Linked DNA regions of Homo sapiens. The protein of the gene in region 1 interacts with the protein of each later gene in a pairwise test. Each region holds a gene or a part of one and is shown in the gene's direction. Other genes may lie near its edges.

Region 1 (6,875 bases):
CTTCCCAATTTGCCAGCGACTAACAGGATTTGCATCCCTTTCTTGGAGGGGAGGTAGGGAATACTACAGGCTGTAATTCATCCTCAGGGCTCAAGACTCATCTTAGAGGTATCTGAGATCTGCCTTACCTGCTCCCAACCCTCACGTGACCCCCATGGCATGGCCTTGGTGCCTCTCACCTCTGCTCCTACCTGCACCCTGCTCCCACCAGGACACATCACAGCAGTCCACACACTGAGCTGCTTTCAAATCCCCTTTTACCAGTCTGGACCCACCTCCACTCCCCTACAGACACACACACAAATTGTGAAGTGTGTAAGGACAAGGACAGACATTTGTTCCCACTTGTTTTCCCAGCACAGCACATAGTAGATCCAATAAACAGCTTTCCCCCATGACCCCCTCAGACATGGATCAGCCATGGGACTTGGGGCTGGGGGGTAGGCGTCTCCCTTCCAGGAGTCAATAGTGGGGCAGGCAGGATTGAGAGTAGCTTAGCTCAGCCCAGATATCTCAGCACATCCACACATCCGACCACATGACCCAGGAATTCCCCAAGACTGCTGGTGGCAGAGTCCCCGACCAACACGGATTCCCTGTCAGGCACTCTCGCTTTCCCACCAACTAGACCTCCTTTAAGGAATTTGAGATATGAGTTTCAGCAGCTTAGATCATTTCCGAGTCACATGCTGTTCTGGCTCTGTGTCTTCCTTGCCTACCTGCTGTGATCTTTGGTCACCCATGGCTCCTCACCTAGATGGGAATTCAGATTGTAGTCAAAGGAAGCTGGAGCAGGGGTGAGAAGGTCCAAGAAGTTGCAGATGATTCCCTCCCGACCATGGCCAGATAGCTGGTAATGGAGTGGGCCCAATCACATGTAGGTGCTTTTAGTTTCATCTTTGGATTCCATCGCACATCCATTCCTTCAGTTCATAAGCATCTATGGAGCGACTTTTAGGTGCCTCGCAGCACACTGGGTGTTGGGGATACCTGGAAAAAATTACAGGAGTGTAGCTAGATTAAGCCTTAAAAGAAGCGTTAAGCTCATCTGTATAATTCTTTCATCTTATGAAGAAATGTTGATTCAGCTGGCCAATTGCCACTTGTCCTTCAGGTCTCAACTTAAAAAGTCCTGGCTTTAGGAACCTGCGCCTGACCAGCCTCCTCCCACCTGGGATACATATCTTAAAGAAAATCTGAGCCGGGCGCAGTGGTTTACACCTGTAATCCCAACACTTTGAGAGGCCAAGGCGGGCAGATCACCTGAGGTCAGGAGTTCAAGACCAGCCTGACCAACATGGAGAAACTCTGTCTCTACTAAAAATACAAAATTAGCCGGGTGTGGTGGCGCATGCCTGTAATCCCAGCTACTCAGGAGGCTGAGGCAGAAGAATCGCTTGAACCCGGGAGGCGGAGGCTGTGGTGAGCCGAGATCACACCACAGCACTCCAGCCTGGGCAACGAAAGCAAAACTCCGTCTCAAAAAAAAAGAAAAGGCAATCTGTTCTTCTTCCATCATGGACCCTTCTCCCTCTGTACAGGATTTACTTGTTTATTTCTCACTAGACTGAGAACATTCCAAAGGCAGGAATCTTGTCATGATTGTGTCCCCAGGCTCAGCACCTAGTGGGCACCAGTATTTGTAGAATGAAGTAATTAGTAGAAGGCCACAGAACTGGTTAGTGTCAGAGTCAGGACTCGAACTCAGGTCCCCCAACACTCGGCCCTGTGCTTGCTCTTATGTTATCCATACTTCCTTTTGAGAATTCTAATCATCTGGATGAGCCCCCAGGAATAGAAGCAGATTTCAGAGGGGAAAGGAGATAGCAAGTCAAGGCAACTATCTCTGGGCCTCATCCTATTTGCACAGAAAACCCACAGCAAAAGGGGAGGCTGGTGGAGGGAAGAATGCCAAACCAGCTGCCACCTCCTGTGGCCCTCCAAATTTGGGAGCGATACATTGGTTTCCTGTGTAAGATGGATCCTCTCCAGTCACAAAGGAGATAAAGAGCTCCATGGAGGGATGGAGACATCTGTAACTCACACTAGAAAAATAATCAAAGGATCAGTGGAAGTAGAAAAGTGGGCAGCCACTGGGGGTGGGTCCTTCTCCATCCTCAGCATGCCCTGGATACACAGGGGAGGCACCATCCTCCTGAAGGCCTGAGGGGAAGGCTGGCTCTCCAGCATAGCTAGAATCCATCCAGGGCCCTAAACTGGCTGGCAGAAGGGGTTTCCCTCAGGGAAGAGGATCCAGGTCTATTGTCCTCTATTCTCTTCCTCAGGACCAGGGTCTAAATCCCGCCACTTTATTACCAGTTGTGTGGCCTTGGACAGAATAATACTCATTTCACAGGATTAGGTTATCAAGATGGCCAAAGGGGAAATGTTCCCTTTCTGCCATTTAAAGCAAGAAGGAAAACCTATGGCCATTCTCATTTCACTGTAAATGAGCACTCAGAGTGGAGATTCTGGACCTAGCAACTCCAGGCCTCAAAAACTAAGTCAAGCTGGGCGCAGTGGCTCACGCTTGTAATCCCAGTACTTTGGGAGGCCGAGGCGGGCGGATCACGAGGTCAGGAGATCAAGACCATGGTGAAACCCTGTCTCTACTAAAAATACAAAAAATTAGCCGGGCGTGGTGGCGGGCGCCTGTAGTCCCAGCTACTCGGAGAGGCTGAGGCAGGAGAATGGCGTGAACCCGGGAGGCGGAGCTTGCAGTGAGCAGAGATCGCACCACTGCACTCCAGCCTGGGCGACAGAGGGAGACTCCGTCTCAAGTCAAACCTCATAACCTACCACCAGTGCTCCTGGCACCAAAATCACAAGAAAACCTTGGGTGGAGCAACCATTTTCAGACTTAGGGACACAGGTTAGATAGTCGGCATGTAAAAATGTTAAATAAATATGTATCCCTTCGGGTTCTCTCCACCTCCAGCCGACACATCCTAAATAAATTCCACTAAGTGGTTGAGGGAATCTACTAAACCTTAGAAGCCCTCTTTTTTTTTGAAACGGAGCCTCACTTTGTTGCCCAGGCTGGAGTGCAGTGGCGCCATCTTGATTCACTGAAACCTCTGCCTCCTGGGTTCAAGCGATTCTTCTGCCTCAGCCTCCAGAGTAGCTGGGATTACAAGCGCGCACCACCACGCCCGGCTAATTTTGTATCTTTAGTGGAGATGGGATTTCGTCATGTTGGCTAGGTTGGTCTTGAACTCCTGGACCTCAAGCGATTCGCCTAAGAAGCCCTCTTTGAGGAAGAAGGAAGAAGTTTCCAGGGCCATTGGATTCCAATATCCAAGTAAGGTTGATCTAACTGAAGACAAGTGAACTCGAACCATAGGACAGCTCTGCACTAACCCTCCCACTAGGCTGGATTCTGCCTCTGTTCCATCCCAGCTCCCTTTCTCCTTTATGGACTCAATGAAGTGGTCAAGCAATTATAGATTTTGGCTTGGGACAAGCAAATTACTCAGGATGAAGAAATACTTTGGTGACCTTTAGTGCCCTCAGATCGCCCCTTGCCAACTGAGAACAGAGTACAATAAAACAACAGGGCATTAAGCAGGACCAAGCGCCACTCAGAGGCAAGTGCAGCTCCAAGGGCCCTCAGAGTAAGCTTCTGGGCCTCAGGCGGCCTTCGCTGGAATCCCCTAGTCCCCATTCCTGGTGGGCGGGTTCCATTGACACCTTTCCCGGCCACGCCGAGGGGGAGGAGGCGGGGCCTGGAGCCCCGGAGAGCCAATGTGGACGGCCGTGGTCACGCGCCGCCGTCGAGCAGGCCAATGGGCGCCGGGGGGCGTGTCCAGGGCCTCGGGCTCAGGGCGTTTATAACAACTTGGAATGCTGTGCTTTACTGCGCGCTCTGGTACTGCTGTGGCTCCCCGTCCTGGTGCGGGACCTGTGCCCCGCGCTTCAGCCCTCCCCGCACAGCCTACTGATTCCCCTGCCGCCCTTGCTCACCTCCTGCTCGCCATGGAGTCGCTGGTTTTCGCGCGGCGCTCCGGCCCCACTCCCTCGGCCGCAGAGCTAGCCCGGCCGCTGGCGGAAGGGCTGATCAAGTCGCCCAAGCCCCTAATGAAGAAGCAGGCGGTGAAGCGGCACCACCACAAGCACAACCTGCGGCACCGCTACGAGTTCCTGGAGACCCTGGGCAAAGGCACCTACGGGAAGGTGAAGAAGGCGCGGGAGAGCTCGGGGCGCCTGGTGAGTGCGGCTCCCTCTCGCGGCGCGGGGCGGGCTCCGGCTTGGCCGCCGGCAGGGAGCGGAGGAGGGCGGGCGGCGGCTCGCTCGTTGCTCGGCGGAGAGGCCAGCGTGGTCTTTACCGCGCTGAGCTTGCGGGGCTACTGCGGGGTGTCCCTGGCAGATGTGTCAGTCCGTGATTGCAGGGACAGTGGTCGCAAACTTGCGAACCCCAGCCAGCAACACCGTACTGCTGTGATGATTGCCAAATAAAAGGGAGGCTATGGATAGTTGGCGCGGAAAAACGAATCGTGTCGTGTCCTGGGATAAGATGGATGGGACTTAAGTTGAGTTTTGCTGGGAAAAGACTGTTCAATAGAGTGCAATGGAAAGAGGAAGTAGAAGGCACCCCATCTTAATAGGTATTTGGTAAATATGTGTGTGGTTGAATGAATGGATGAGGTGTGGATTTCCCCAACTCCAAGAATCTGGCAACCCAGCACACTGGAGCTCTGGCACGGGGTGGGTTTTGACATTTAGGTCCTTTCCAGCTCTAAAATTTAGTTGAAATTTCATTATGATGAGTTTTTGATTCTGGAAAATGTGAAACCAGGTCCACTGTACCAGAGACACCTTTCGGTTTGGGGGCCTTTTCAAGAACATGCCCTGTTACTTTGGTGCGAGCGTAGGAGTCTAGCAGTCTGTGTGACCTTGGGCAATTTCCTTCATCTCTGTACTTTGTTTCCCCTTTTGCAGAACTGTAGAAAACACAGCCTGCCTCACAAGCTGCTGTGAGGATTGAATAAGATCGAAATATGAACTTATATTGCTCCTAACACATAGAACTTGCGGTGAGATAGCCGGGCGCGGTGGCTCACGCCTGTAATCCCAGCACTGTGGGAGGCCGAGGCGGGCGGATCGTGAGGTCAGGAGATCGAGACCATCCTGGCTAACACAGTGAAACCCCGTCTCTACTAAAAATACAAAAAATTAGCCGGGCGTGGTGGCGGACGCCTGTAGTCCCAGCTACTCGGGAGGCTGAGGCAGGAGAATGGCCTGAACCCAGGAGGCGGAGCTTGCAGTGAGCCGAGATCGTGCCACTGCACTCCAGCCTGGGCAACAGAGCGAGACTCCGTCTCAAAAACAAAACAAAACAAAACAAAACGAAACAAACAAAAAAAGAACTTGCAGTGAGAATTTCTGGAAAGGGCAGCCCAGAAAGGATGGCAAATTTGTCAAAAGTTAGTTAGCAGTGGTTAACTGGTTCTCAAACTTGAGTTTAAAGTACGTAAGGATCACCTGGGATGTTTGTTTAAAATACTTACATTCTCTGGTTCCACACCCAGAGTAATTTATTCTGAAGGTCTAGGATAGGGCCATATAATGTATATTTTAACAAGCCTTTTAGAGCAGGTGGTTTAGGCATTATTATGTTTTGCCAAATCCAGTTGGGTGCTGGTTGTGAGGGGGTGTGTGTGTGTGTGTGTGTGTGTGTGTATGGTTTGCCCTATTGGCTACATCAGCAGTTACTTCCCCAGATTGTGTTTGCTTTTGCAGCCAGTAGCTGGTTTGAAATTCAAGAAGTCATTTCATTGGTGAAGGAGAGTGGATGTTGGAGAAAGGGGTAGATTATGGCCCCATCAATAGGACCGAGTATGTTTTTCCTGCTATCGCCTGGCACAGTCCCCAGTTGCCTGCTGCCAGGTTACAGCTATTGGGCAATCATGTACTTCCTGGCTTGCCTTTTCTTTCTCTTTCTGCAAAGTGTGAGGGCCCGGTGAGGCTCCAGGCTTGAGGCTGTTGGACCCAGGCTTTGTCAGGGGCTTAGCTGGAAAATAGCTGCTGGTGGCTTGTGCTTCGTGCCTCTTGGGGGTGGAGACACTGGGTCGTGGGGACTGGGGTGGCCCAGAGACTGAGAAACTGAGATTGAAGTTCAGAGTTCCCATCAGGCTCTTGACCCAGGTCACTGTGGGGTGTGTGTGTGGATGTGCATGAGAGAGAGAGAGTAAGAGAGAGATCTCATTTGATTCCAGAATGAGATAAACTAGCTTTCAGTTTTCAAACTTAAGTGGATTTAGGCAGGGATTCCAGCTCTTATTACATCAGAAGATACTCCCTGGCCTCATGCCTCTTGCTCTATGTAGGAAGCCAAGATCAGTAGGCATGGGACCTGCTGTGAACCTCCCTGATCCATAGACCACCCAGTTCTGCAGCTGGGAACTTGCTCAGGGTCTCCTTCCTTCTTGGAGAGCAGCTGCCTGCTGTGCTAATGGTTTCTCAATTCTGGAGCATTGCCTCTTCCCCACCCCACCCCACCCCTGCCTCTTGACTGTCCTTCGTGAATCGAGAGAGACCTAGTGCCTCAGGATACTTCAGTGCGGGAGAGGGGTGTGGGAGCTTGCCCAAGACCTCCCCTAGAATGAATTGAGATTGTTGGTGGGAGCTAGATTCAGAGGAAAGCCAGCTGGGTGACTTCCATCCCAATTTTCTCTCCACCTTTCTAGCACACTTCCCGCTCCCAACCTGCCTAGATGGGATTATCAGGGCCAGATGGGATTGGCTGAGGGAAGGGCAGGTGGGCGGAACTAATGGCTGCTCTAGGAGGACATCAAAGGAAAAACAAATATTTGCTCTGGCTCTTCAATACATTCCTGGTATCCAAATGACATTTCCTCCTGGGACTCACCCAGCTC
Region 2 (5,076 bases), on another chromosome or scaffold:
AGCTTCTCTCAACCCAAAAATCTGAGAACCCCTCCCCTTTTCTCCTCACCTAAACCCATCTCCTACTTTGGGCGCAGCACACATATTTTCTTGTCAACTTTTCCCCAAGCCCACCAACTTGGATTCAGATTGCGACATGCAGGACAGGCCAGTCATTCTCTCTCTCTGACTTTCTGTTTAATCATCTGTGGGCTAATTCCCCCTTCTCTGGTGCCATAAATTATGTGGCTCATAGTAGGTGCACCATCCAAGGAGAAGGTCCCTTTTTCCAACTTGTAATGATCACTAATTATTATTGCCGGCTGTCATGTCAGCCTCCTTACCAGCCACTTTCCTTTGGAAATAACTTTTTTATTGTTCCACAAATAGTATGTGCTCATTGTAGTACATTTTTTAAAAACCACAAATGAGCAAAGATTTTTTTAAAACCTTAAATGTCTGGCCGGGTGTGGTGGCTCATCCCTATAATCCTACACTTTGGGAGGCCAAGGTGGGCGGATCACTTGAGCTCAGGAGTTTAAGACCAGCCTGGGAAACGTGGTAAAACTCCGACTCTATTTAAAAAAAAAACAAAAACAAAAAAACCTTAAATGTCAAAAAAAAATAATATTTTCACCATCCAGACGTCACCATTATAAATTCTTAGTTCAGGGCTGGGCGCGGTGGCTCATGCCTGTAACCCTAGCACTTTGGGAGGCTGAGGCGGGCAGATCACTTGAGGTTAGGAGTTTGAGAACTGGCCTGGCCAACATAGCAAAACCTCATCTCTACTAAAATACAAAAATTAGCCGGGCGTGGTGGTGCGTGCCTGTAGTCCCAGCTACTCGAAAGGTTGAGGCAAGAGAATCGCTTGAACCTGGGAGGTGGAGGTTGCAATGAGCCGAGATCACACCACTGCACTCCAGCCTGGGCAACAGTGAAACTCCATCTCAAAAAATAAATAAATAAAATAAATTCTTAGTTCATACCCTTCCAGAATTCTCTCTCTTTTTAAAACCTAGATGAGATTAACCTGTTTTTTATTCAACTGTTGTCTCTACCTTCCCAATTTGATCAATTTTCATGTCATTGGCTGGGTGCGGTGGCTCCTGCCTATAATCCCAGTACTTTGGGAGGCCGAGGCGGGCAGATCACTTGAGGTCAGGAGTTCAAGACCAGCCTGGCCAACATGGTGAAACCCCATCTCTACTAAAAATACAAAAATTAGCTGGGCGTAGTGGCGCGTGCCTGTAATTCCATCTACTCGGGAGGCTGAGGCAGGAGAATCGCTTGATCCTGGGAGTTGGAGGTTGCAGTGAGCCAAGATCTTGCCATTGCACTCCAGCCTGGGCAACAAGAGTGAAATTCTGTCTCAAAAAAAAAAAAAAAATTCATGTCGTCTGATACTTTGACCTTAACCAGATTTCTCTAGTTGGCCCCAGAATGTCCTTTCTTGCTGGTTTTATGAAAACTAGCATTCAGATTCAGAGCACATGTTACATCTGGTTGTTTTATGGCCCTTAAATCTCTTTAGTGCGGTCCCTTTTTTCCTGAGACCAATTTGTTGAAGAGGCCAGCCCAGTCACCCCACAGGAAGTATGCTACCTTTTGGGTTTTTCTGCTGGCTTCCTGGTGGTATGATTTAACATGTCCCTCTCTTCCAGTTTTCCTGTCAGCTGAAAGTTAGATCTCATTTGCTTTGGGATCTTCCTTCAATCCTCTCCACAAGGCTCTGATGTGGTTACTCTCTACCCCCATTTAGGCAGAGGAGAAAACAGAGTCTGAGGGTACCAAGATGGGCCAACAGTCCCAGCTTCAGGGCCCATGTTCTCTCACCCACCTCTGGCCTGGTTCTCCTCCCCAGTCCCTGACACCTGTCTGGGGTCGGTGGTGCTGAGCCCGGGGCTGGCCTCTCCCCTTCTCTTTCCTGCAGTCCTTATCCAGCAGCCCTCAAGCCCAGCCCCCTCGGCCAGCAGAGCTGTCAGATGAGGAAGTGGCTGAGCTCTTTCAGCGGCTGGCAGAGACACAGCAGGAGAAATGGATGCTGGAGGAGAAGGTGCTGCCTGCCTGCCTGCCTGCCCATCCCCACTTGAAGTGCCCTTGTGGGTGTGGGGTCTGCCCGGGCCCGCCTCATGTGTGAACATGTACAGTAGAGGGGTCTCAGGTGGGCTGGGCCATCTTGCAGGTGAAGCACCTGGAAGTGAGCAGTGCTTCCATGGCAGAGGACCTCTGCCGGAAGAGCGCCATCATTGAGACCTACGTCATGGACAGCCGGATCGGTCAGTGTCCCCTCCCCGGCCCTCAGCCCTGGTCCAGCCTTCACCTGGCCCTCCCTCTCCATTCTGTGCTGCGGCTTCTCTCCTCTCCTCTCGGAACTCAGCGAAGCTACTGACAAGACCATGGCCTGTGGAGGGGAGAACAGGAAAGCACTGTCTCTTGATCTCGCCTCCTCCCTCTTCTCTCTTTCTCTGTCATCTCTCCACTCTCCATTCTCCATTGTGTCTCTCTGTCCACTTTCTCCTTTCCTCTCCCTGTGCCTCATCTTCCTCTCCTCTCTCTCTCCCTTCTCTCTTCTCCGTTTCTCTTTTTCACCCCACTCCTTCATCTTGTCTCGCTGTCTATATTGTTTTCCTTCTCTGTATCTTCATTGCTTTTGCTTTCTTTCAAACTTTCTCCTTCACAGATTTTTCTTTATTAATCAGAATCATACTGACCAACATGTGCTGAGGACTTTCTGTGTGCTCTGTGCTTCACATACAGTCATGTGCATCTTTCCAGTTCCACAAGTTAGTTATCCTCATTTCTCGGGGCCATAGAGCTAGTGAGTGACAGAGCTAGGTTTTGTATGTCAAAGCCTCTGTCCTACATGACATGGCTTTTCCTGCTGCCTTCTCCCCTGGTATTCGTCTCCCTCTTTTCTCCTCTGGCTCTGCCTGGCTCTCCTCTGGCTCTGCCGAGGGGGTGGTTTTCAGCCTGGGCCCTTGCAGATGTGTCTGTGGCAGCAGGCCACACAGACCGCAGCGGGCTGGGCAGCGTCCTGAGAGACCTAGTGAAGCCAGGTGACGAGAACCTTCGGGAGATGAACAAGAAGCTGCAGAACATGCTGGAGGAGCAGCTCACCAAGAATATGCACTTGCACAAGGCAAGTGTGGCCTGCCAGCCTACCCATCTGTTCACCCAGCCACCTGCCTACCCAGCCACATAGCCCCTGGGTCATCTGCCAGTCCCCTTGCCCACCCACCCAGCCTGTCCTCCCAGCTATCCTCCTACCCACTCATCAACTACTCCATCATGCTCTCATCTTCCACCCTCTCATCAACTTATTATCCATTCATTCCTTCCATGTACCCGCTCATCCATTTATCTACACATTCACCCAACCATTTGCCCATCTGTCCATCTACCCAATCTACTACTTACTTATCTCATTGTCTACCCCATGTCCTGCCACCCATTTCTTGACATATCATTCTCTTATCTACTCATCAATTGCCCCTTGTGTTACCTTTCACCCACCCAGTTACCTGCCTGCCCACCTGTTGATCTCCATCTGTCCTCTGGACAATTCATTCGTCCACCAATTTGTCTACCATAGATCCCCCATGCCCATGGGTCCACACACACATCTTTCTGCCCAAACTGCCACCCAAGGACTTTCCCCATCTCTGAGAGTTAGAAAGGGGTCAGACCCAGCTCCTGCCTTTGAGAAGCAAGCTCACACTTAGAAGAGCAGGTGGCCAGAGTGGTGGTGTATCCTGCAGCAGCACCATGCCACAGGAGGCATCCCACTCCCATTATCTGTAGCTCCCCACCCATCCTCATGACTTTTCTGAGCCCTGCCCACTGTTGGGGGTGCTGTGAGCTTCTCCAAGTACCTTCTCATCCCAGGCCAGACACAGCTGAGCATTGATTAATGAAAGGGTGTGAGGGAAATCACAGATGATACCCTACGTTTGGCAAGGGAGCAGCCTGTCCCCTTCTCTGGCCCCTGATGGTTCATTTGTTTCTTAGGATATGGAAGTTCTGTCCCAGGAAATTGTGCGGCTCAGCAAGGAGTGCGTGGGGCCTCCTGACCCAGACCTAGAGCCAGGAGAAACCAGCTAAAGACCTGCAGGCTGCACCCACCTCCTCCCCTTCCTACCCCCTAGGATGCTATTCCCTTGGGCTGTGGTGGAAAAATGAGGGCTGGAGCCAAAATCAAATAGCTTGGGAGACTGGACATTAAAGGGGCTAGAGGCCTGATGGTTAGTGTTAATGATCCTGTCTTAGGGCAGAGGCCACCAGGGAGTGGGGATCCTGAGGGAAGGGGCAGGGATTTCTCCTTCTTCTTGGTCCTGGCTCCCAAGGGCTTCTGTCTTCATCTCTGCATGAGCTCTCCTTCCCAGAGACCAACTCTTTTTATTTTATTTTATTTTATTTTTTAATTTATGTCTGGAGCCTGGCTACTCTGCATTTGGGATTGGGGATGCTGGGTGGGTGTGTGGTCCATGTTCAGCGTTCTAGCAACACGTGTGTGTGTGTGTGTGTAAAGGCTATGCAGCCAAAATACCATCTGGCCAGACGGGCCCACCCACTGACTGTCTCGTCTCGTTCTTTTCAACCAGGAGGAATATGCTGGGGGCGGGGAGGTTTACACCATTGGAATAGGGAGAGAGGTCTCTGGCTGCAACGTTACTCTCTTTTCCCCACCCTCATCCAGCCTGTCTCCATTTACTGCTGACCAGCCCCTCAAACTGAGTGGAGCTGAAATACCTGCAGATATGTACATGGGTAGACATGTATGGGATTGTGGGTATAGATGAGTAGACAGATGGGAGGATGGATAAGTGGTTGGATGGACCGATGGATGTATAAGTGAACGGTTGCATGGACTGATGATGGATAGATTGGGAAATAAATGGATGGATGGATAGGTGGTTAGATGAATAAATGGGTAGATAGATTGGTAGGTGGATAGAGGATGGATAGTAGAGATGTAAATGGACAGATGGATAATAGGTCTATGGACAAATGGGTGGATGATTTAGGTAGACAGGTGGATGGATGGGTTTATGGACAGGTTAGGAGTAAATGGACCAATGGTTGGGGGAATGGATG

The links.
Region 2: the proteins of NUAK2 (region 1) and GRIPAP1 interact in binary tests that used the Homo sapiens proteins (3 or more experiments, as listed by UniProt).

Annotation. Positions count from the first base shown.
Region 1 is NC_000001.11:205,318,729-205,325,603, reverse strand, and holds the start of NUAK2 (NUAK family SNF1-like kinase 2), read left to right. Parts: upstream 1-3,858; 5' UTR 3,859-3,975; coding exon 3,976-4,206; intron 4,207-6,875. UniProt on the Homo sapiens protein: Stress-activated kinase involved in tolerance to glucose starvation. Induces cell-cell detachment by increasing F-actin conversion to G-actin. Expression is induced by CD95 or TNF-alpha, via NF-kappa-B.
Region 2 is NC_000023.11:48,973,200-48,978,275, reverse strand, and holds the end of GRIPAP1 (GRIP1-associated protein 1), read left to right. Parts: intron 1-1,912; coding exon 1,913-2,035; intron 2,036-2,164; coding exon 2,165-2,258; intron 2,259-2,966; coding exon 2,967-3,121; intron 3,122-3,990; coding exon 3,991-4,083; 3' UTR 4,084-4,553; downstream 4,554-5,076. UniProt on the Homo sapiens protein: Regulates the endosomal recycling back to the neuronal plasma membrane, possibly by connecting early and late recycling endosomal domains and promoting segregation of recycling endosomes from early endosomal membranes.